7 linked regions of the Homo sapiens genome follow. The protein of the gene in region 6 purifies or fractionates together with the protein of the main gene of each other region. This does not show direct contact. Each region holds a gene or a part of one and is shown on either strand. Other genes may lie near its edges.

Region 1 (3,500 bases), on a different chromosome or scaffold from region 6:
GGGGGGAAGCTGGGCTCCTGCGCAGATGGGCAGTGTCCTTCGGAGCGGCTCCTGGTTATTGGGTTGTTAGTGGAGCAGGTTTTAGGAAAGAGCAGGGTCTGAAGGGGCCGATTTGGAGCTGTTGGGCTGTGTGTCCTTAGGCAAGTTGCCGAAGCTCTCTGCGCTCGTTTCCTGGAGGGCCTGCCTCTGGGATTGGCTTCCATGTGGAGGGTGCCAGGTGCTCTGCTGCAGGCGTCAACGTGCGTGCCGGGGTGTGGTGTCTGGCAGCTCTGTGTGCTTGGTGCTGCTGTCATCCCATTTGACAGAGGGCGCCCTGGAGGGGTCCCTCCCAGCGGCCAAGCCTGTGCTCCACACAGTGGCCTGTGCAGAGTGAGGGGCGGCTGTCTGGCTCCACGGGCACCTCCTTGGCTCTCTCGAGCAGCTCCTCTGGAAGTGACCTCAGGAAGGCGAATGAGGAAGTCCCAGCCAGCGGCCCCCTTCCTTCCCACAGCATGAAAGCCCGGCACTCCCCAGGCTGGCTGCCCCTGCCCCCGGGCCCCTCGGCATCTCCCGAGGGTGGGAAGTGTGGGGTGCAGCGCCCCCATGGATGGCTGGGAGTATGGGGGAGAGCAGGGCTGCTGGAGAGGGACAGGTGTGCTGGGCGAGCAGCTCCTGGGGCTGGAGCCAAGGCGGAGGGCTTGTCACTGGGTTCACCCTATGCTGAGCACATTTGTGCTGTGGCCCGTGATGCCCGGAATCCCTGGGAGCTCCCAGTCCCGGGGTCGCCCTGGTGTGGTGCTGTGTGGTGACCGTTGATGAGCCCTGTGAGCGAGGGCTCTGTGGCCTGCATGTCTTGGCAGCTGCCAGTGAGAATCTGCGGAGGACACTGGGGCAGGGCTGGCATCAGTGCTTTGGGCAGCCTGGGGCTGCAGGCCCAGGCGAGGCAAGCCCTCATGCCGTTGGCTGGTCTGGGCGCTGACCTCATGAATCCTTGCTCTGGGTTGGTCCTGTCGCTAGGATTTCAGCTGCTTTATTTTGGTTAATCCCGGTAGAGAGACCTGTGACTATCTCCATTTTATGGACAGGAAAACAGGCCCAGGGAGGATGAAGCCTCCTAACTCAGTGGGGCAGAGGTTGGGGGCACTCAGGGTTGGCCCTGAGTCTGCCGAGGCCCTGCATCGACTGGGCAGGTGGCGCCCCTGCCTTCCTGCCCCGTCCTGTGCCTTAAAACCAGGCGGAGGTTCAGGGTGGCAGAGGTTCAGAGGCCCGTGGCCATGAGGAATGAACTCCTGGGCAGGGCAGTGGGGCCTGGGGGGTCCGAGGCTCTTTCAGCAGGAGGAGCCACAGCCCCTCCCTGCCATCATGCAGTCAGCTGCTTTCTGGGCTGGGCAGAGCGGGAAGAAGGTGAACTGGTTCCTCCATTCCGTGGGGAGGCGGGGAGGAGTCACTCAGCTTCCTGGGAGCAACATGGGTTTTTCCCCAGGGGCTTGGGAAGGGGCGGCCTGTGGGCAGCGGCTGGGCCCCTGCTGCCGTCCCACGTGTCTGGGGAAGCAGACAGGTGGCTCCATCTTAGAGTCCCGCTCTGGCCCTCATGAGGCAGGAGGCCCAGCAGGGCGCCCTGAGGGGCCACTGGAAGTCTCGACGCCCTTTGATGGTCACTGGCAAAGAAGGAAGGAGTTTTGGGGAGGTGAGGAGTTTTCAGGAATAGGGCAGTCAGGATGCAGTAGCGTGACTTTTTTCCGATGCAGGGCGTTCAGAGAGAAACTGAAACTGCATCCTGTTAGCCTGGCGAGAAAAAGCCTTGTGGTCACCCCTTCTCGGGTTCTTGCTCTCAGAAGCTGAGGTTTGCCGGCCCTGAGAGGTGCGGGTGGGATGGAGGTGAGGGGAGAAGTGACAAGGAAGGCAAGGCCCTGGCGTTGGGCCTGGGAGTCAGCCCTGGGCGCCAGGACTTCCAGCTGGCCGCTGCACTCAGCCTCACGTCCTTGCTGGTCACATGGCCATCCTGAGGTCTGCTGGATCAGGTGGCTGCAGACATTAATAAGGTAATGGATACCAAGCCCCCAGCTCTGTGCCTGGCCTAGAGCAGAGTCCCTGTGAGTGAAGGTGATTCCTGGTGGCCATGGGAAACGTCGGTGCTCCGGTTCCTCCTAGCCAGAGCTCTGAGCCCCTGACTTCATCCCCAGACAAATTCTCTGCTCTCAGATAAAGCCCCTTTCCTGGGCCCCGGATGAGGCAGAGGCGCCCAGGGAGCCGCGGGGGCTGTGCGCCGGGGCCATGGCTGCAGGCGTTTCTTGGCATCTCTGATCATCTTCAGCAAAGGAGAGTCTGCAGAGCCATCCGCTCCTTGGGCTTCCTCTGCTGGCAGGGGACAGTCGCCTGTTCCTGTGGCTCCGGCGCGCCCTCGCTCTGGAAGGCGTCTGACACACCATGCCATGTGCTGACCCGGCGCTCTCAGCAGCAGCTGCCAAGGCCAGAGCTAGTTCTTGGGCCCAGTGCCAAGAGAGCTTGATCGTCACAGCTACCCCGAAGCCAAGGAGCGACGCTGCCCTGGAAGCAAAGCTGTGGGCAGAATGAAGCCCTGGGAAGAGATCCCAGCGGTCGTGTTGAGGATGGAGCAAGGATGGGGCAGGGGCGGTGGCAGGGGCAGGTTGGGCTTTGTCCCAGGGCTGGGCAGGAGCTCTGGCTCTGCAGCATCAGGGAAGATGCTCAGGGCTGCCCCTAAGCTGCCTGTTGGTTTCCTTCCACCACCTCTGTCTGGGACCACAGATTGTCCTTGAAGGCACATTGATGATGCTGAAGAACGCATACTGACTGTTTACTGCTCCCCCGCCTTGGGGTAATGCTTAGCTCCTTTCTTCCTCATGACCACCCCAGTTAAGGACTAGCCACCTGTGTGCTATAACTGTTGAAGCTGCAAGGTGTGGCAGGGTGAATGCAGGCACCTTCCCAAGGGCCAGCCTTTCAGAGATGGAGCCAGGGTTGGTCTTTGTCCTTAGATCGGGCCTCAGATGTGAAGCATTGGCCAGAGAGCTGATGGGCAGGTGGACAGGAATGGAGCTGCAGCCACAAGTCAGCCTGGCTGCCCCATTCTTGCTCAGCCTGCGCTGACTTGGGCTGTTCCTGAACTGGGGCTTGGGCTGTCCCCATGAACCTCATGGGGGTGGAGGTAATTAGGGCTGGGGCAGGTGGCAGCCAGAAAGCCGGGAGGAAGCGGCCTGTCCACTCATGGTTTGTCTGTGTGCTGTCCTGAGGAGCCCTGGGGTGGAGGTCCCTGCGGCTTTGGGGAGAGGGGACAGAGGGACAGCTCTGGCTGATTGCACAGTGTGGGGCGGGGCTGCCGCCTGGCCTCCGGCTCTTCGACAGCTCTCGGGGAAGCGGAGGCTGTGGTCCCCCTCCTCCTCCGGGGATTGATGTCGTCCTGTGCCACTGGGATGAATGGGGACATGGGGTCTGGAGAGGAGAGTTGGGCCTCCCCTTCCTTCTGGCCTTCCTGGCTGGCCCTGGGCTCTGCATGTTTGGGG
Region 2 (3,500 bases), on a different chromosome or scaffold from region 6:
ATACGTTGTAAGATGTTCAGTATCATCCTTGTCCTCTACCTGCTGGATACGAATAGCAGCACACCCCCTCCAAGTTGTGGCAACCAGAAATGTATCCAGACGTTGACAGATGCCCCTACACTGCAAACCACCCGTTTAACATCTTATCCCCTTTCTGTTCTTTTTCTTCCCAAAGTCATGTCTCACAAGAGAACAGCGAGTACGGATCTTAAGCAACTGAACCAGGTCAACTTTACCCTTCCCAAGAAGGAAGGACTTTCCTTTCTTGGTGGCCTTCGGTCTAAGAATGATGTCCTTTCCCGCTCTAATGTCTGCATCAATGGGAACCATGTTTACCTGGAGCAGCCAGAAGCCAAGGGTGAGATCAAGGATAGCAGCCCGTCCTCCTCCCCATCCCCCAAGGGCTTCAGAAAGAAGCATTTGTTCTCTTCTACAGAGAACCTGGCGGCTGGGTCTTGGAAGGAGCCTGCTGAAGGAGGTGGGCTGTCTTCTGACAGGCAGCTCTCCGAATCTTCCACCAAGGACTCCTTGAAGTCTATGACCCTGCCGTCCTACCGACCTGCCCCACTGGTCAGTGGGGACCTCAGGGAAAACATGGCCCCCGCAAACTCAGAGGCCACAAAAGAAGCTAAGGAGAGCAAGAAGCCAGAGAGCAGGAGGTCCTCTTTGCTGTCTCTGATGACGGGGAAGAAGGATGTGGCTAAGGGCAGTGAAGGTGAAAACCCTCTCACGGTCCCAGGGAGGGAGAAGGAAGGCATGCTGATGGGGGTTAAGCCGGGGGAGGACGCATCGGGGCCTGCTGAAGACCTTGTGAGAAGATCTGAGAAAGATACTGCAGCTGTTGTCTCCAGACAGGGCAGCTCCCTGAACCTCTTTGAAGATGTGCAGATCACAGAACCAGAAGCTGAGCCAGAGTCCAAGTCTGAACCGAGACCTCCAATTTCCTCTCCGAGGGCTCCCCAGACCAGAGCTGTCAAGCCCCGGTGAGTTTTGGCTCTTCTCGTGCAGGGCATTTCTGCCTTGCCATTGGTGGTTTTCAGGCTTACGTTAGACCAGCTCTTGTGGGTCCCATGATATCATAGTACCCATATATGCCAAAGGTTTGCTGGTCTAAATTATTTTTTTAACCAGTCCCTACTGCCAGCCTGGCCTGCCCTGTATAAATTGCAGTGATGTTTCCCAGCTCAGAGCTACTGCCCAGCAGGCATGGTCTGTCCTTTCAGTCAGCTTATCAGATCTCAGTGGAACGCAGTGGTTTGTAGCAGATTGTGGGTGTTGCAAGTTGGGAATACTGAGTTTGGGTTGTAGTGTATGCAGAACCTGTGTTTTCGAAGTTCTTATCTCACATTTCCCTTTGAGCCAGATGTTATCCTGCCTCCTTGCCTTTTGGCATTGGTTTCTGGTATGAGAGACCCTCGGTCCTCTCTCAAGTGACAGTGACGGTTCTTTGTGTCCACTCTGCCCCTTGTTGTAAGAGCCGGCATAAGCCTTGGGGACTGGCCTTGGGGACTTCTGCTTTTCTGTGTGATCACATTCATACTGACAATATTTCTGCGGTCTGGGGAGTGAGATTTTTTTTTTTAGAGATTCTGCTTACTTTGACATGCACACACACACACACACACATATACACACACATACACACTGTTCCTCTTAAACTTATCTGTGCCTGTTGCTTTGTGTTACATCTTTAACCACTTTAAACCTTTTAGGTGCATTTTGTCCTGTAATAATCAAATGCTCGGGCCTTGTGTTAATCACCACAAGAAACCAGAGGCTATTGCTTTACCGGGATCTTTTCATTTCTATTGCAACAGACTTTTGTGTGACGGATCTGCTTGGTTATAAAAGTGTCTGTTGTGTATGTTAAGTGTTAGTGTTCCTTTTTTTTTTTGAGACAGTCTCCCTCTATCGCCCAGGCTGGAGTGCAGTGGCACGATCTCAACTCACTGCAACCTCCACCTCCCAGGTTCAAGCAGTTCTCCTGCCTCAGCCTCCCGAGTAGCTGGGACTACAGGTGCACACCACCACACCCGGCTAATTTTTGCATTTTTCAGTAGAGATGAGGTTTCACCATGTTGGCTGGGCTGGTCTTGAACTCCTGACTTCAGGTGATCCGCCTGCCTCGGCCTCCCACAGTGCTGGGATTACAGGCGTGAGCCACCGCGCCCGGCTAGCGTTCCTTTTTTAACTTCTTAAGGTACTGCCCCACGTGTAAAGACGTTCTCCCCTGGTGAATGACTTGTTTTTGTGTATTTTCTTTGTCTCTCGTGATGCATCTGCACTGACCTGCAGATTTTATTTTGTCCTTTTTGCAGACTGGAAGTGTCTCCAGAGGCGCAACCCACAGCCAGGCTTCCTTCCCCTACTGACTCCCCTTCCTCTCTTCCTCCTCTTCCTTCTAGCTCTGGCCAGGCATCTGTCCCCTCTGAATTGGGACATGGTGCAGACACACAGTCCTCTGAGAGTCCTTCTGTCTTCTCCTCTCTCTCATCTCCCATAGCAGCTCCCATTTCCACATCCACTCCAATTGAAAGCTGGCCTCTCGTAGACAGGGGCCAGGCCAAGTCTGAAGGACCACCCTTGCTCCCTAAGGCAGAGTTGCAAACTGAGAGTTTAACACCGGTTCCAAATTCTGGTTCTTCTGCCCTGGGATCACTTTTCAAACAGCCATCCTTTCCAGCAAATAAAGGGACAGAAGATTCTCTGATGGGCAGGACCCGTGAGACAGGCACAGAGAAGAACACCAGCAGCCTTGAGTTGGAGGAGTCTCTCCCAGAGCAGCCTGAAACAGGGCGACAAGAGGAAGAACTTCCGAGATTCCCCTGCAAAAAACAAGACTACAGCCCATCATCTGGAGAAGCCCAGGAAGTACCGTTTGCCCTTTCACTCAGCAGTGATGGAGCTGTGAGCCCTGTTGGGGAGCTTGCAGCAGGAGGAGACAGAGACTTGGAGAGTCAGGCTGGGTCTCTTGTGGAGAGCAAAGCCAGGGATGCAGCTGAAGAAGTGGCGCCCCCTCTTCCCATGGGAGCATCAGTCCCTTCCATTGATTCCATGATGCGGAAGCTGGAAGAGATGGGTCTGAACCTCCGCAAGGACCAGAAGAAAACCAAGAAGCGTGTGTCATTTTCTGAGCAGCTCTTCACGGAAGAGGCAGTGGCGGGGGCTGCCTTGCTGGTGGAAGGACACAGCAGTTGTCCCCAGGAGCTGAACCCTGCATGGTCTGTTGCTGGAAACGCGTCTGACGGAGAGCCTCCTGAGTCTCCCCACGCAGAGGACTCAGAAAGGGAATCGGTGACCACACCTGGGCCAGCGACGTGTGGTGCGCCAGCCTCCCCAGCGGATCACCTCCTCCTCCCCTCCCAGGAGGAGAGTTTCTCCGAAGTCCCCATGAGTGAAGCAAGCTCAGCGAAAGACACTCCACTCTTTAGGATGGAGGGAGAGGATGCCCTTGTGACTCAGTATCAGAGCAAAGCCAGTGACCACGAAGGTTTATTGTC
Region 3 (3,500 bases), on a different chromosome or scaffold from region 6:
GGGTGACAGAGTGAGGCTCTGTCTCAAAAAAAAAAAAAAAAACCACAAACAACCTCCCAAAAAAACCAAAAAACATAGAACTACCAGTCAACCCAGCAATCCCATTACTGGTTATATATCCAAAAGAAAAGAAAATGTTCCACCAAAAGACACATGCACTCATATGTTCATCACAGCAACGACACTGACTCAACCTGGGTGCCCATCAGTGGTAGACTGGGTAGAGAATGTGACACACACACACACACACACACACACACACACGGACACACACACACCACAGAATACTATAAAGCCATAAAAAAGAACAAAATCATGCCTTTCGCAGCAACATGGATGCAGCTAGAAGCCATTATCTTAAGTGAGTTAATGCAGAAACAGTAAACCAAATACCGTATGTTCTCACTTGTGGAAGCTAAACATTGGATACACATGGACATAAAGATGGAAACAATAAGCACTGAGGACTGTTAAAAAGGGGAAAAGAGGAAGGGACAGAAGGGGGAAAAGAGTTAAAAAACTAACTACTGGACACTATGCTCACTGCCTAAGTGATGCAATCAACTGTACCTCAAACTTCAGCATCACACAATATACACATGAAACAAATCTGCACGTTACCCCGAATTTAAAATAAAAGTTGAAATTATTTTTTAAAAAATCATGAGAGCTAGGCACAGTGGCTCATGCCTATAATCCCAGCACTTTGGGAGCCCGAGGTGGGCAGATCACCTGAGGTCAGGAGTTCAAGACCAGCTTGACAAATATGGTGAAACTCTGTCTCTACTAAAAATACAAAAATTAGTTTGTGGCGGTGCACGCCTGTAATCCCAGCTACTCAGGAGGCTGAGGTGTGAGAATCGCTTGAACCCAGGAGATGGACGTTGCGGTGAGCTGAGATCGCACGACCGCACTCCAGCCTGAGCAACAGAGGGAGACCCTGTCTCAAAAAAAAAAAAAAAAAAAAAACCATGAGACTTTTCTTTCTTTTGAATCAATCTGGCCGTGATTTAAAGGCAGATAATAGTCAATTATGACCTGGGTAATGAAAACAGGTCAGAAGTGGTCATGGAGACTCAAAACAGATCTGTCTGATTTTAATCAGAAGCATCGACCTTAAGAGTCAAACAGAGGCTGGGCGTGGTGGCTTACACCTGTAATCCCAGCACTTTGGGAGGCTTGAGCCCAGGAGTTCAAGACCAGCCCTGACAGGATGGTGAAATCCTGTCTCTATAAAAAAAATTAAAAAATTAGCTGAGCATGGTAGTGTGCACCTATAGTCCCTGCTATTTGGGAGGCTGAGGTGGGAGGATTGATTGAGCCTGGGAGGTGGAGGCTTCAGTGAAATGCGTTTGTGCCACGGCACTCCAGCCTGGGTAACAGAGGAAGACTCTGTCTCAAAAAAAGAAAAAAAAGAAAAAAAAAAAAAGCCAAAAAGATCTGTCATAACCTGGGGTAAGGCACTCAACCTCTCCCAACTTTACTTCTCTAACCTATACAATGTGGATAATATAATTTTGAAGGGCTTAAAATCATACACTCGCATATATGTTTGTCATGTGATTAGTACTGAATAAAAGCTTCTTTTCCTCTCTGGCGCAGGGAGACTGATAGAATTTTTTTTTTTTTTTGAGATGGAGTCTCGTGGAATCTCGCTCTGTCGCCCGGGCTGGAATGCAACGGCATGATCTCGGCTCACTGCAACCTCCGTCTCCTGGGTTCAAGCGATTCTCCTGCCTCAGCCTCCTGAGTAGCTGAGATTACAGGTGCCCACCACCATGCCTAATTTTTTGTACTTTTAGTAGAGACGGGGTTTTACCATGTTGACAAGGCTGGTGTCGAACTCCTGTCCTCAAGTGATCCACCTGCCTTGGCCTCTCGAAAGTGCTGGGATTATAGGTGTGAGCCACCAGGCCCAGCCCTGACAGACTATTAAAACAGTTTCAAATAGATTTTGGTGAATTTATACCCTTACCTGCTGCAAATTCCTCAATTGTCATCAGTGGGAACCGGATTAAGGAAAGTGCTTTTCCTAGAACTTTTTGTTTATTCCCAAAAGTCACAGGTAATTGTTGTCTCTGACATTCTGCTTCTGCCCAGCGTACAACAGCTCCAAAAAGTCGACTTTCTCGAATACTGAGTGTGTCTCTCTCTAAAACTGCACAGAGTGTATCTATAGGCAAAATACAAAATAAACCCAATTAGAAATATTTTAGCTCTCTAACCAAGCAATACCAACAGACACACTTATATTAAGTTTTCAGATCTCAACAAAAAATAGGTTAGACACTTAAAACTACAGACTTTATACTTTAAAATACTAAATAATTAAAGGACTTAAACTCCAAAGTGTTCCATAAAAATCAGTTTAACAATCAATTTATTACTTACCATACATGCAATATTAAGATACAGTACTCTCCTTATATATTTATGCCATTTATCAAGTAAACTCAACTATCCAGAATAAGATTAACAAGCCACAGAAAAAGGTTCCAATTACATAAATTCTTAAAGTCTACAGATTATAATTCATTCGTTCATTCAGTAAATATTTATTATTAAGCACTACGTGCCAGGTACTATTAGGCAATTTTATATATATATATATATATATATATATATGTATGTATATATTTTGGATATAGAGTCATAGAGTCTCATTCTGTTGCTCAGGCTGGAGTGCAGAGGCACAATCTCGGCTCAATGCAACCTCTGCCTCCTAGGTTCAAGCAATTCTCCTGCCTCAGCCTCCTGGGTAGCTTGGATTACTGGCACGGGCCACCACACCTGGCTAATTTTTATATTTTTAGTAGAGACAGGGTTTCACCATGTTGGCCAGCCTGGTCTCAAACTTCCGACCTGAAGTGATCTGCCTGCCTCGGCCTTCCAAAGTGCTGGGATTACAGGCGTGAGCCACCGCGCCCAGCCAGCACTGATATATCACTGAACAAAAAGTTAAAAATTCCTGCCCTCATGGAGCTTACATTCTAATGAGGAGAAACAGATTAAATAAACACAAGTAAATTCGAGTATCTTAGATGATATACATGGGCAAATATGTCAGGTTAAGGAGAATCAGAAATGCAGTTTAAAATAGGAAGGGGCCAGGCATGGTGACCCATGCCAGTAGTCCCAGCAATTTAAGAGGCTGAGACAGGAGCATGGCTTGAGCCCAGGAGTTTCAGGCCAGCCTGGGCAATATAGTGAGACCCCATCTCTACAAAAAAGTTTTTAAAAATTAGCCAGGCATGGTGGCATGCACTTGTAGTCTCAGCTACTCAGGAGGCTGAGACAGCAGGATCACTCGAGCCTGGGAGGTTGCAGGCTGCAGTGAGCCATGATCATGCCATTGTACTCCAGCCCAGGCAACAGAGTGAGACTGTGCCAAAAAATAATAAAATAAAATAAAATCGGGTGGTTTAGGCAGGCTTCACTTATGCCAAGACATGAAGGAAGTGGGGGAGTAAGCCAAATAGATACCTAGAGGAATAGTATTC
Region 4 (3,500 bases), on a different chromosome or scaffold from region 6:
TTACAGTGAGCGGAGATTGTGCCACTGCACTCCAGCCCAGGCAACAGTGGAGACTCTCTAATTAAAAAAAAAAAAAAAAAAAAAAAAAAAAAAAAAAGCATGAACGAGACTTTGAAAACTCTAAAAAAACATCATTTCAGTTGACTACATTATATTCCATCCTATAGATGTGTCATAAGACCAATTCTTTTTTTTTTTTTTTTTTTTTGAGACAGAGTCTTGCTCTGTCACCCTGGCTGGAGTGCAATGGCACAATCTTGGCTCACTGCAACCTCCAACTCCTGGGTTCAAGCGATTCTCCTGCCTCAGCCTCCCAAGTAGCTGGGACTACAGGTGCTCACCATCACACCGGCTAATTTTTGTATTTTTAATAGAGATGGGGTTTCACCATGTTGGCCCAGCCAGATCAATTATTTAATGTTGTCACTCTCTTTAGGAAGTTGTTTTTAAGTTGTTTTTCTACTCTTAATTATTATACATGAAACTGCAGTGAACATTTCTTTACATAAATTTTTGTACATTTTCCTAATTACTTCCTTGAGAGAGATTCCTTGAAGTGGAATTGCTGGTCAAAGAGTCACTACTAAAACATAAATGTGATCTTTACCACAATTTCATATCCTTTATCTTCTTTTATCTCTAAATAAACCTGGGAAATAAAGCTGGAAAGACGTGGATTATTATTTCCATTTGATCAAGAAGGAAACTGAAAATGAGAAATTAAAAGGATTTGCCCAAATCTCATAGCTAACAGCCGAGACTAGACTTAGTACCCTGCAGTGTTATGAAAAAGTTTAAAATCAATGCTCTACCCTCAGATGAATTCTTAGGTAAGTCATATTGCCTCTCTAAGCCACAGCACTTTTACCTTAAAATAGAGAAAATACCACCTACTTCACAGAGCTTGGTACAAATAGAAAGAGTAGTACTATACGTAAACAATCTGACACAGTTTCTCGGCCCATGGAGGTACTGAATACATATTATTTCACTGGCCCCTTTAATTCACTTCTGCAGGCAAATCTTGTTCAACTGCCCTCTCCCTGATTGTGGCTCCATTATTTGGGCCTGTTTTACAATTAACTGTTTGCTCTCTCTTCTGGATTCAAGGGGGCTTTATCCATCCTTACATCTGGTCAACGCTAGACCTACAGTAAATCCTTAGAGGGTGTTATGTCTTTCAAGAAACACATATAGAGCATTTTTCAAGTGCCAGACTATCAGTGTAAATGTCAGATTACTGGTTTTCACTTTTCTGATGTAGCCCAGCTTCACACTCTTAAACTGCTAGAATTAGAGGGGACTTTGGAGTAGCAGCTTTTTATTGTAACAAAAAGCCTGGCTACTGGGCCCAGCTTTCCCAGTAACTCAGTGTGTAAACTTGGCCTAGTTACTTAAATTCTATGCCTCAGTGTCCTCATCTGACAATAATACTTACTTCACGAGGTGCTGTGAATTTTAAATAAGAGAACGTATATAAGTATGTTTCATACACTGTGCTGAGAAAAATACATGTAGCCTCGTGTAGAATCAGTGAGAAATTTGCCTGCCTTTATTAGCTGTGACTGCCACAGATAGGAGACTAGGAAGTGATGGCAAGAGTAAAAAATTGTTTCAGTTCCTGATCTACCTCCGTTTATCTTACAGGTAAAAAAAAAAAAAAAAAATTGAGGCTCTGCAAAGACAAGTGATTTGTCCAAGCTCACACAGCAAGTCAGTTGGAGGGTCATGAATGGAACTTCTGTTACCTAATGGCTTCCAGGTTTGACGGGATTAAGGAAAACGAAAACCACAACAATTTTAGGGTGAATAAAGAAGCATCCTGGCTGGGCATGGTGGCTCATGCCTGTAATCCCAACACTTTGGGATGCCAAAATGGGAAAATCACTTGAGGCCAGGAGTTCAAAACCAGCCTGGGAAACATAGTGAGATTCCATTTCTACGAATTTTTTTTTTTTTTTTTTTTTTGAGGCAGAGTCTCACTCTGTCGCCCAGGCTGGAGGGCAGTGGCGCGATCTCAGCTCACTGCAAGCTCCGCCTCCCGGGTTCACGCCATTCTCCTGCCTCAGCCTCCCGAGTAGCTGGGACTACAGACACCCGCCACCATACCCGGCTAATTTTTTGTATTTTTACTAGAGATGGGGTTTCACCGTGTTAGCCAGGATGGTCTCGGTCTCCTGACCTTGTGATCCGCCTGCCTCGGCCTCCCAAAGTGCTGGGATTACAGGCGTGAGCCACCGCGCCCAGCCAAAAAAAGTTTAAATTAGTCGGATGTGGTGGTGTGCACCTGTAGTCCTCGGTACTTGGGAGGCTGAGGCTGGAAAATCACTTGAGTCCAGAGGTTCGAGGTTAGAGTGAGCTATGATTGCACCACTGTATCCCAACCTGGGTGACAGAGTGAGACCCTATCTCTAAAAATAAAAATTAAAAAAAAGAAGCATACCCAACATCCTGAGTGTCCTGCTACCGTACTGTACTTGCCATACCACACTGTTAACATCTGCTTATGCACACACAGCATGGCTTTCCCAGTAGGTGGTGTGAGAACGGGGAGAGGCAGAGAGCTGAGTTCAGTTGGAAGGCTCATTCAGATGGAAGCCCCCAAGGGGATCTTCTTAGGAGGGGGCGGCCAGGGGCTACTCAGACATTTGGAAGACAGGCAAAAAGCATCCCAGCAGGCAGCTGCCTGAGGCAGATCTAAGCAGACAGGTCATGCACAGTGGTGCATGCAGAATTGCATTTGTAAGATAAGCATCAATCAAATCTTTCCTCTATTTTGTGACAGTCACATAAAATGATAGAGCTATCTCCGTGACAAGCAATACAGATGAAGGCCCAGGGACCATCTGGGAAGTCGTCCCTGTCCCAGGCTGGGGGAAAGAAATGACTCCTCAAAGGGTGGCTGTGAAAAACAACCCTTTCAGTCTGATAGGCGGCAGAAATAAGCACCTAAGGAAGAAGCCAACTTCAGCCAGGAAAGAGCGGGGAGGAGGAGGAGAGAGCCCTAAAATCCAGCGAGAAGAGATCAGCTCAATAAATGGAGTGAAGAAGTGAATGAAGGAACTTACCTTTTGTTGCAAAGAACATGAGACTGAGTCCAAGAGACCTGGCATTTGAAAGATAAGCCCTGGCTCTTTCAGTGATCCTGTAAACTTAGGCAAATCACACCCCTGGCCTCAGTTTCCTTATCTATAAAAGGAGCTCATAAAATGGCTTCCTGGCAAAACTGTTGCAAGAATTAAAACCTGTATATGGGAGGGTGTTTTATTAACCCCTTATTTTGTTTGTTTGTTTGTCTCTGTGCTTCATGGTTTCTTCTAGCAAGTCATCCTGTGTAGTGGAAATAGTTTGGAGCTCCAAATCAAACAAACTAGATTCAGTTTCCAGGTCTATCATTTATTACCTATGAGACCTTGGCAAGAAATGTTACATGATTAAGACAGTTTCCTCATTCATAAAACAAGTGTTGTTGGGAAAATTATAGGTAATGTGGGTTATAC
Region 5 (3,500 bases), on a different chromosome or scaffold from region 6:
GCAGCCCTCCCTAAAATGGACTCAATGTTTCTCCCGGGCCCTTTTGCTTCTCCAGTCTCTCTTGTCCCAACAAGGGTCCAGAGGAAGCCCCTTCTCGGTCTGCCAAGCTTCTGCCTTTCCAGCTGGCTCCACTTCTCACCAAGAGCCTGCCCCCCCTCCCCAGTTCAGGGGTTGGGGTGGTATGGAGGAGGGGGCCCTTCTTTAAGCAGATGGGTTCCTCAGGCTGAAGACTTTCTTCTTCAAGGGATCCCATCTCTTCACGCTGCTATGGCCTCTGCTAGTCACAGAGCTCAATCGCGTTCATGTTCCTCCCACAGCCAGTACTGTGGGCCTCGGGGTGAGTGATGAGCATTCACTCTACGTGGAAGGGGTTTGTGCTACATTGGCATGGACCTGAGCAGGGGCAGAGCATCCTGTGTATCACGCAAAATTGTCCCTGGCAGTCCATCTCAAGTGTCCTTCTCAGGGGGCAACTTCCAGGGACAGGGGTGCTGCCTCCTTGTCTCTGATTTTATCTCCCCGGCAGTTCCCAGGCTCAGGCCAGACACCCAGCTGGTGAATATCCACCAAATCCTTAATGCTCATGACCCTAGACCTCAGGAGGTGGTGTCCAGCCTTGCCTCCTGCACCTTGATGATGGTGGTGCCCCCAAATACATAAGAAGATCCTCTGACACCCCATCACTCACTGCCACCCCCAGACTGAGCAGTAATGTACCCCGATGGCACAGAGCTTGTGGTGCTGAACCTGGGTCCAGCCCTTCGTCACGGAGTTGGTTTCTTGGGGATCCCCCATCTCTCACCCCCCACCCTGGTAGGATCTTGGGACTAGCAGAGTGAGCACCATCTGGGGTAGGTGTGAGAAATGTCCTCATTTGTTGCATGGGCAAAGCCTGAGGTTTTCATGCTAGTGTTGCCCTAATGACATCTGCACCCTCCCCGGGTGCAAGTCATCGCTGAGCTCTTTCCGTTAATGACATCATTTTCACTTGACAATGGCAGCATCTTGTTCCTCAGATTTCCTGCAAAACCTCCAGGCCATAATTAGGTTTCTATGTCATTCTGTTCTCCAGGCCCCAGGCCTCTTGACAACTTGTGAATCTAACTGTACAAGTAATACAACACTATTCCAATGCTTGCAGCATTTCAGTGGGGGTGTGACTGTGGGAGTCTGTCTCTGTTCCCCCAGTCTGGCCACCTCAGTGGCCTTGCCTTAAGTCCTGCATCCTGAGGACCATGTAAAGCTGCTGTGATTCACTGAGCAGCTGCCAGCCAGCCCACTTCCCTCCACTGGATGTGGTGATTCTGTCTTTTTCCAATTAACCCCAAAAGAACTGGGCCTCTAGGCAATATCTCATGCTACTGGAGCTGGGCCTGAAAAGCCCCAGCAGGGATGGTATTGCTAATTTTTCCTTCCCCTCCCCCTCCCTCCCCTTCCCCTCCCCCTTTCCCTCCCCTTTCCTCCCCTTCCCCTCCCCCTTCCCCTTCACCTCCTCCGCTTCCCCTTCCCCTTTCTTCCTTTCTTTGACAGGGTCTCACTCCTGTGGCCCAGGCTGGAGTGCAGTGGCACAATCATGGCTCACCATGGCCTGACTTCCTGGGCTCAGGTGATCCTCCCACCTTAGCCTCCCAAGTAGCTGGGACTACAGGCATGTGCCACCATGCCCACCTAGTTTTTTATATTTTTAGTAGAGATGGGGTTTCACCCAGGCTGGTCTGGAACTCATGGGCTCAAACAATCCATCTGCCTTGCCGGATGTAATCCCAAAATGCTGGGATTACAGGTGTGAGCCACCATGCCCAGCCAGCATTGCTAACTTTCTGGAGCAAAACCTCACCACCCCATATCTTCCAAAGCTGGTGGATATCTCTTCTTTAATTATTAGGGCATCCTTCGTCATATTTTGGAACAACTAAATACCTAATCCTTGAATGTGGCTAAATTGGTTACTAAAGTAATCTACCTTTCCTTTCAGAATGTTAACTGAACACCTACTCTGTTCTCTTTCAGAATGTTAACTGAACACCTACTCTGGTCTCTTTCAGATAATTAACTGAACACCTACTCTGATTTCTTTCACAATGTTAACTGAACACCTACTGTGATTTCTTTCACAATGTTAACTGAACACCTACTCTGGTTTCTTTCACAATGTTAACTGAACTCCTACTGTGGTCTCTTTCAGAATGTTAACTGAACACCTACTCTGGTTTCTTTCACAATGTTAACTGAACACCTACTGTGGTCTCTTTCAGAATATTAACTGAACACCTACTCTGGTTTCTTTCACAATGTTAACTGAACACCTACTGTGATTTCCTTCACAATGTTAACTGAACACCTACTCTGGTTTCTTTCAGAATGTTAGCTGAACACCTACTGTGGTCTCCTTCAGAATGTTAACTGAACACCTACTCTGGTTTCTTTCACAATGTTAACTGAACTCCTACTGTGGTCTCTTTCAGAATATTAACTGAACACCTACTCTGATTTCTTTCACAATGTTAATTGAAAACCTACTGTGATTTCCTTCACAATGTTAACCGAACACCTACTCTGGTTTCTTTCAGAATGTTAGCTGAACACCTACTCTGGTTTCTTTCACAATGTTAACACCTACTCCGGTCTCTTTCAGTATGTTAACTGAACACCTACTCTGCTCTCAGCAGGTGCCTCACATATTGCTCTCTTTACTACAAGGCTCACTTGCAGAACTCAGACGTTTCCACCTGGTGTCTCGAGGATCCTTGAATGCAATGTGCTCACATGGACGTCATTATCCCTTTCTCTCATGAAGCTCCTGCTTTCTCCTTTGTTCCCCGTATTGCTTGGCTCATGGAATCACTAATCCATTGTCCCTTCATTTGCCAAGCTAGAAACCTGGTCATCAGCCTAAACTGCTCCTGTTCCTTTCTCCCTGCATTTGATCATCATCAGCTCCTGATGTTTCTACCTCCAAAGTCTCTTTAATTCACCCTCACCTTGCCAGCTCTATCCTCTCACACCTGGACTATTGCAGTAGCCTCTTCATCATCACCCATGGCGCTCATCCTCTCGGCAGCACGAAGCTCCCTTGCTGAAAACCCTATGATGCAGCTCCATTTTAAAACAGCATGTAATGCCCTCTCTGCACTACAATAGCATTTTATTTAACCCTCACAGTAACCTCATAGGGAAGATATTATTATCTGTACTTTAAAGTTAGGGAAGTGGTGGCTTAGAGAGGCTTCATGACTTGCTCAGGGACACACAATGAGAGGTAGAGCTGAGTATAAAGCCAGATCGTTCCGACTTCAGAGGCCCAGCTCTTTCCACCCCAGCTGGGGGCTCACTCCTTATTATAGAAGCGCCTCCCACATTCTCCTCTCAAAACACCCTGGGCTGGAGCAAATGAGCCCACAATCTCCCTGGGAAGGAAGGCAAGTTCCTTATAGGAAATGCCTCTGAAAACTTTTCTTTGACCTCAAAATCTGTATTTGTAAACTTCTGTTTCATCTTAA
Region 6 (3,500 bases):
TGAGCCAAGACTAGGTCACTGCACTCCAGCCTTTATGACAGGGCGAGACTCCATCTCAAAAAAAAAAAAAAAAAAGTAGCCTGGAGTGGTGGCGCACGCTTGTAGTCCCAACTACTTGGGAGGCCTAGGCAGGAGAATCGCTCGAACCTGGGAGGTGGAGGTTGCAGTGAGCTGAGATCGTACTACTACATTCCAGCCTGGGTGACAGAGTGAGTGAGACTTCGTCTCGAAAAAATTAAATAAATAGGCTGAGTGCGGTTGTTCATGCCTGTAATCCCAGCACTTTGGGAGGCCGAGGTGGGCAGATCACTTGAGGTCAGGAGTTCAAGACCAGCCTGGCCAACATGGCAAAACCCCATTTCTACTACAAGTACAAAAAAAATTAGCCAGGCATGGTGGCGCACACCTGTAGTCCCAGCTACTCAAGAGGCTGAGGCGGGAGAATTGCTTGAACCTAGGAGGCGAAGGTTGCAGTGAGCCAAGACTGCGCAACTGCAGTCCAGCCTGGGCGACAGAGAGACTCCGTCTCAAAATAAATAATGAATTAATTAATTAATATATTAGCTAGGACAAAAGCTCAGCCCTTCTGTCTCACCGGCCATGTCCTGAGTGTTTGCTAGGCACACACGACTCACGCCACCCCTCTGAATAGCCCAGGTCACAGAATATTTCTGCCTTCCCAGAAAGCCCCATTGCTTTCTGGGTGTGGCTGGCAGGGAATGGAGGGCTGGTGCTCAGTAGGTGCACTCCGAGAGGGAGGCAGACAGGCAGCGGGAGAGGAAACAGAGTTTCAATAAAGGGCCCAAGTCAGACTTGCTTGGGACGATGAAGAATCATGTAAGTTTCTGAATGTTTGACTGAGTAGTGGACACTGGCCAGGACCCAAAGCCTCTTCTCTTCTGGGGAGCCCCCACCCCTGTTACGGATCCAAAAGTCAGACGTTCTGTCTTCGCTCCTGACAGGCAGGCTGTGAACACAAACAAGGCATGGCCTGCCAAAGCCGCTAACTCTAGGAAGAAGCAAAGGACGATGTGCATGGTGGTGGGGGGTGCTGCAGCCAGCCTCTCTGCCGGCGGCCCATGCCTGGAACTGCTTCTTCAGCATGCCTGCGAATGCACCACCCACCTGACGTTTCTGCAGTTGGCTGCTTAGCTGCACGAGCTGCTCCGGCACCTGTCCTCCTGCTGAGATACGGCTGAGCACGAGTGGTCACACTGGGAATGGCAGAGGCAGACAGAAAACAGACATTTGAAGAGAACCTTAGCTGGGCTGGCAGTGAGGCAGGTGTGGGAGTCAGAGAGGGAGACCCTGGGTGTGGCTGGCAGGGAATGGAGGGCTAGTGCTCTGTAGGTGCACTCCGAGAGGGAGGCAGACAGGCAGCGGGAGAGGAAACATACGCATTTAACAGATGGCAGAACTTCTAGCTGGAAGGCCCTGAGAACTCAGCAAAGATGCAGGCTGCAGGACAGGAGAGGGCAGGGCTGGGGACAAAGGTCAGGAATGCTCCACACACCGTCACCTGGCTCACTCCTCACCACTCGGCCTCCACTTGCTCCCCTGCTCAGAGTACCCCTTGCCAGCCCACCAGAAGAGCTCCCCTCCACCCCGACACCCTCCCCTGCCCTGCTTTGAGTCGTAGCGCTCCTCATCGCAGAACTGCGCCTCCAAAGTGCCTTCCTGACACACAGGAAGCGCCACATTCACGTGTTAGATAAATGAGAGGACTGAGAAGTCGCCCTTGGAAAGATGACAGCTGTTGCCAAGAAAGGGGCGGAATCTAGGGGCGGCAGAGGTTCAGGAGCCACAGCTGTGGGGAAGGCCGGAGCCAGAGTCTAGTGGCACAGGAACCAAACAGACAGTTTCAATAAAGGGCCCACAGGGTTCACTATGATGAGTGGCTTAAAAATCTACTGCTCAACAGGAGATGGGGCGACCACTGATGGAGTAAGGGGTAGCAGGACCCAAAGGAAAGGTAAAGGCATTAAACTGCGAAAAGGAAGGCCACGCCTTTCTCTGAGAGGCATCAGGGGAAGAGAAATAAGGTTCCTTCTAGCAAGACATGCACAGGACAGCAAGCCTGGGCCAAGTCTCAGCCCACCTGCAGAGCACCCACACTAACCTGACACTCAGCAGAATCACGCTTCCACCGTCCACACCAGACCACCACACACGAGGCTGCTGCCAAATGGGTCAGGCATGGTGGTGGCAGACACCCTTGAAGACCTGGCGTTTTCTAGGTAAGAGAAAAAAAAAATTAGAGCTATTTCTAAGATTAGAGGCCTTCGTAGCATGAAAAATAATGGGAGCAGCTTACAGCCAGTCTCAAATAAGAACGTGTCTGATGAGGATGTAGACACTCCCCAGGGTTCTGAATGGCTTAGCAGGCCTCTGACCTTCTCAGCAGGAGCTGACATTTTAGCTGAACTCTTGCACCTCTGAGGCACTCTAAACCAGTATTTGATCAAGGATCTCTGTATTTATTTTTTTAGAGATAGGGTCTTGAGGCCAGCTCAGTGGCTCATGCTTGTAATCCCAACACTTCGGGAGGCCAAGGCAGGAGGATTGCTTCAGCCCATGAGTTTGAGACCAGCCTGGGTAACACAGTGAGACCCTGTCTCTACAAAAAATTTTTAAAAAAAATTAGCCAGGCCGGGCGCGGTGGCTCACGCCTGTAACCCCGGCACTTTGGGAGGCCGAGGTGGGCAGATCAGGAGGTCAGGAGATCGAGACCATCCTGGCTAACATGGTGAAACCCCATCTCTACTAAAAATACAAAAAAAATCAGCCAGGCATGGTGACAGGCGCCTATAGTCCCAGCTACTCGGGAGGCTGAGGCAGGAGAATGGCGTGAACCTGAGACGCAGAGCTTGCAGTGAGCCAAGATCACGGCACTGCACTCCAGCCTGGGCGACACAGCAAGACTCCATCTCAAAAAAAAAAAAAAAAAAAAAAATTAGCCGGGCATGCCTCTAGTCCAAGTTACTTGGGGGACTAAGTTGGGAGGTCACTTCAGCCTGGGAGGTCAAGGCTGCAAGTTCCCATCTTTCCTTTTTTTTTTTTTTTTTTTTTTTTGAGACCAAGTTTCACTCTTGTCACCCAGGCTGGAGTGCAATGGCGTGATCTCAGCTCACTGCAACCTCTGCCTCCCAGGTTTAAGTGATTCTCCTGCCTCAGCCTCCTGAGTAGCTGGGATTACAGGTGTCTGCCACCACACCTGGCTAATTTTTGTATTTTAGTAGAGACAGAGTTTCACCATGTTGGCCAGGCTGGTCTCGAACTCCCGACCTCAGGTGATCCACCTACCTCAGCCTCCCTAAGTGCTAGGATTACAGGCATGAGCCACTGCATCCAGCCAAGTCCCCATCTTTCTTACTCTTGGTTATAAGGGGGTGCTCTGGCAGCATCTACATCACACCAACTTACTTTTCAGGCCATAGGCCTGGCAGTTTCCTTCTCAAGCAGGAGAGGGAAACCAGAGGCAACGCTGACAAGCCACTTCC
Region 7 (3,500 bases), on a different chromosome or scaffold from region 6:
CCATCCACCCATCTCCCCTGGCCCCCTATAGGTTACCATTTTTATTAGTTTCTTATTTTTCACTGATTCTTTATCCAAATATAAATACATATTATTTCTTTTCTTTCTTATACAATAGGAGGTATACGATATATATTCTCTGCATTTTGATTTGTTAAACCTAATAATGTACCCTCTGTAGATCTTTCTATTTTAGTTCATAGAGATCTTCCTGATTCTTTTTTAAACATTGAATACTACTCCAGTATGTGGATATGCCATTATTTATTCAATGAATCTTTCGTTGCTCGGACACTAGGGTTGTTTCCAAATTTTTTGATGCTATACAATAATGCACCAACAAAGCACACCAATGTATTAAGGTTGTTTTATACATTTGCAGGTTTATCTATAGAATCAAAATGAAACTGTAGTGTCAAAATGCAAATGGGTATAGAACTTTTACTGAATTCCCTGACAAAAATGCAGATTTCTTTCTGATATGAATATGCTGTCTCCTAACCCTAAATTTAAGGATAAGTTTCTTAAGTAGAAATTTTAGTAGAAAATAGAGAACAAGCTAGGTTAATGAAGACATCAGTGATGAAAGGAATTGAGATAGGAAATAAATATCAATGAGGCTTTGAAATATAGGTTTTAAATTAGTTGTGCTTATTCTTTATTAGGTCTTGCTGGAATCTACATATATATACTCAAACTTATACTATATTTAGGTTTCACATAACAATTAGACTTCCACACAGAAAACAAAGCCTTTGAAAGACTTGCTTCAATCAAAAGATAGAAAATGGGGTTCTGTTCTAGGTAAGACAGAATAAGCAAACTCTATCCTGTCTTTCCCAGTGAATGCAACTATAAAACCTGGACAGGATACATGAAGTGGCTATTTGAGGACTCTGAAAAATTAATAGTGAGCATATTAAGGAAGACTGCAATGTGAAGAACCATTGAATTAGCAGTTTCCTTCCATATCCCCTTGTCTGAATGCAACTCAGCTTAAAACCCAAAAGTGTGAACAGAATACTCCAGAAGAAGGCCTATAGTTCTGGCTCATGAAACAAGAAAGGGGACACACGAATACTTGGAGATAGTGTAGAAATACAATATTTTTCCTTCTGTTGTAAGCCAGCTTCTGAGCAATTTCATGACAGTTGTGGCAAAGGCTATAACACAAGCAGAATGCTCAAAAACAACAGTCCCCAACCTTTTTGGTACCAGAGACTAGTTTCATGGCAGACAATTTTTCCATGGACAGGTGTTTGGGGGATGGTTTCAGGATGAAGCTGTTCCACCTCAGATCATCAGGCATTAGTTAGATTATCATAAGAAGCCTGCAACCTAGATCCCTCACATGCACAGTTCACAATAGGATTCACGCTCCTATGAGAATCTAATGCCTCTGCTAATCTGACAGGAGGTGGAGCTCAGATGGTAATGCTCACTCACCTGCCACTCACCTCCCACTGTGTGGCCTGGTTCCTAACAGGCCATGGACCAGGGGTTGGGAACGCCTGCTTACAAATACAGAGGAAGGGAAATTTTTCTTTTTTTTTTTTTTTGAGACGGAGTCTCACTCTGTTGCCCAAGCTGGGGTGCAGTGGCGTGATCTCGGCTCACTGCAAGCTCCGTCTCCCAGGTTCATGCCATTCTCCTGCCTCAGCCTCCCAAGTAGCTGGGACTACAGGCGCCCGCCACAACGCCTGGCTAATCTTTTGTATTTTTAGTAGAGACAGGGTTTCACCATGTTAGCCAGGATGGTCTCGATCTCCTGACCTCATGATCCGCCCGCCTTGGCCTCCCAAAGTGCTGAGATTACAGGCGTGAGCCACCGCGCCGGGCCCAGAAGGGAAATTTTTCTGACTGATGGAACTGTATCTCAAGACAGTGGGGCAAACTCCCATTGCTTTTATTCTTTGTCCTTCTACCACTTGGCCCTGGACATAGGTGCAGTTGTGCAAGTGCATGAGAAAATTTGGCCTGGGGACCGAAAAAGGGAGCCCCAGCAAATCACAAAGTATGGCAGAGACTGTAGACAGGGTGAAGTGTGAGAAAGCAACCCCATGAAGTAGTTCGTGAATGCTTGAGCTCATTGCCAAAGCTGTGCATGCATGGATTTGATCCTACTTAGTGTACCAAAGACACTGAAAACTGAAACAACAGAGACAACAACACCCAGGTCACATACCGGGTGTTGCACAAATATAAAATAAGTGAAATCATATAAAGTATGTTCTTGGATCATAATAAAATTAAGCTAGAAGTCAATAGCAAAAAATAACTGGAAAGCCTCTAAATACATGGAAACTAAACAACACATTTCTAAACAGCCTATGGGAAAATCTCAAGGAGTATTAGAAAATATTTTGAACTAAATGAAAATAAAAGTAATACATTTAAACATTTGCAGGATGCAGCTAAAGCAGTGTTTAGAGGGAAATTTATAGCATTAAAATACTTGTATTGGCAAAAATGCAAGGTATCCAGTAAGTAATCTAAGAAGCTATAGAGAACAAAATAAACCAAAAGCAAGCAGAAGGAAAGAAATAAGAGTAGAAATCAATTAAACTGTATATGGAAAAACAATAGAGAAAAATCAATGAAACCAAAAGTTGCTTCTTTGGAAAAAAATCAATACAATTGATAAACCTCTACAAGTCTGACAAGAAAAAGAGAAGACATAAAATACCAAAATCAGAATGAAAAAGGTCATATCACTACAAACTGTGCAACTATCAAAAGGACAATAAACAAATACTATAAACAACTCTATTGATATACATTAAAAAATTTAATGAAATAGATGGAATTCCTTGAAAATCACAAATTACAAAAACTCATCCAAGATGAAATAAATAACTTGAACAATCCTAATTACTAAAGAAGTTGACTTTGTGGTTAAAAACCTTTCAAATAAGAAACCTCCAGGCCCAGATGGTCTCTTGGTAAATTCTACCAAACCTTCAAAGAAGAAATAACACCAAATATACTCAATTTCTTCCAAAAAATAGAAGAGGAAGGAATACTTCCAATTAATTCTATGAGGCCAACATTATCCTCACACCAAAACCAGTCAAAGACATTATGAGAACAGAAAACTACACACCAATGCCTGTCATGAACATGGATAAAAATCCTCAACAAAATATTAGCAAATCAAATCCAGCAACACATAAAATGAATAATACACCATGACCAAGGAATGGAAGGCTGGTTCAATATTTGAAAATCAGTGAATGTAATCCACCAGTATTGAAAATCAGTGAACGTAATCCACCATACTGACAGCCTAAAGAAGCAGCCACATGTCCATATCAATTGATGCAGAAAAGGCTTTTGACAGAATTCAGTATCTGTTCATGATATTAACAAAACTATCAGCAAATTAGGGATAGAAAGAAATGTTCTCAACCTGATAAATGATGTCAACAAAAAAAACCTAAAGCTGACATCATACTTAATAGTGAAATGAATGCTTTCCCCCTAAGATTGGAGTAAGACAT

The links.
Region 1: the proteins of FLCN (region 6) and RAB35 purify together in Homo sapiens (affinity purification with western blotting; one study listed by BioGRID). This does not show direct contact.
Region 2: the proteins of FLCN (region 6) and RAB11FIP1 purify together in Homo sapiens (affinity purification with mass spectrometry, with the first as the bait; one study listed by BioGRID). This does not show direct contact.
Region 3: the proteins of FLCN (region 6) and BTBD1 purify together in Homo sapiens (affinity purification with mass spectrometry; one large-scale study listed by BioGRID and IntAct). This does not show direct contact.
Region 4: the proteins of FLCN (region 6) and RAB3B purify together in Homo sapiens (affinity purification with mass spectrometry, with the first as the bait; one study listed by BioGRID). This does not show direct contact.
Region 5: the proteins of FLCN (region 6) and RAB7B purify together in Homo sapiens (affinity purification with western blotting, with the first as the bait; one study listed by BioGRID). This does not show direct contact.
Region 7: the proteins of FLCN (region 6) and RABL3 purify together in Homo sapiens (affinity purification with mass spectrometry, with the first as the bait; one study listed by BioGRID). This does not show direct contact.

What each region holds. Positions count from the first base shown.
Region 1 is NC_000012.12:120,099,754-120,103,253, reverse strand, and holds part of RAB35 (ras-related protein Rab-35), read left to right. Parts: intron 1-3,500. UniProt on the Homo sapiens protein: The small GTPases Rab are key regulators of intracellular membrane trafficking, from the formation of transport vesicles to their fusion with membranes.
Region 2 is NC_000008.11:37,871,998-37,875,497, reverse strand, and holds part of RAB11FIP1 (rab11 family-interacting protein 1), read left to right. Parts: intron 1-175; coding exon 176-983; intron 984-2,318; coding exon 2,319-3,500. UniProt on the Homo sapiens protein: A Rab11 effector protein involved in the endosomal recycling process. Also involved in controlling membrane trafficking along the phagocytic pathway and in phagocytosis. Interaction with RAB14 may function in the process of neurite formation.
Region 3 is NC_000015.10:83,039,753-83,043,252, forward strand, and holds part of BTBD1 (BTB/POZ domain-containing protein 1), read right to left. Parts: intron 2,174-3,500; coding exon 1,976-2,173; intron 1-1,975.
Region 4 is NC_000001.11:51,984,201-51,987,700, forward strand, and holds part of RAB3B (ras-related protein Rab-3B), read right to left. Parts: intron 1-3,500. UniProt on the Homo sapiens protein: The small GTPases Rab are key regulators of intracellular membrane trafficking, from the formation of transport vesicles to their fusion with membranes.
Region 5 is NC_000001.11:205,979,396-205,982,895, forward strand, and holds part of RAB7B (ras-related protein Rab-7b), read right to left. Parts: intron 1-3,500. UniProt on the Homo sapiens protein: Controls vesicular trafficking from endosomes to the trans-Golgi network (TGN). Acts as a negative regulator of TLR9 signaling and can suppress TLR9-triggered TNFA, IL6, and IFNB production in macrophages by promoting TLR9 lysosomal degradation.
Region 6 is NC_000017.11:17,230,669-17,234,168, forward strand, and holds part of FLCN (folliculin), read right to left. Parts: intron 2,234-3,500; 5' UTR 2,120-2,233; intron 1,215-2,119; 5' UTR 1,126-1,214; intron 1-1,125. UniProt on the Homo sapiens protein: Multi-functional protein, involved in both the cellular response to amino acid availability and in the regulation of glycolysis.
Region 7 is NC_000003.12:120,701,017-120,704,516, forward strand, and holds part of RABL3 (rab-like protein 3), read right to left. Parts: intron 1-3,500. UniProt on the Homo sapiens protein: Required for KRAS signaling regulation and modulation of cell proliferation. Regulator of KRAS prenylation, and probably prenylation of other small GTPases. Required for lymphocyte development and function. Not required for myeloid cell development.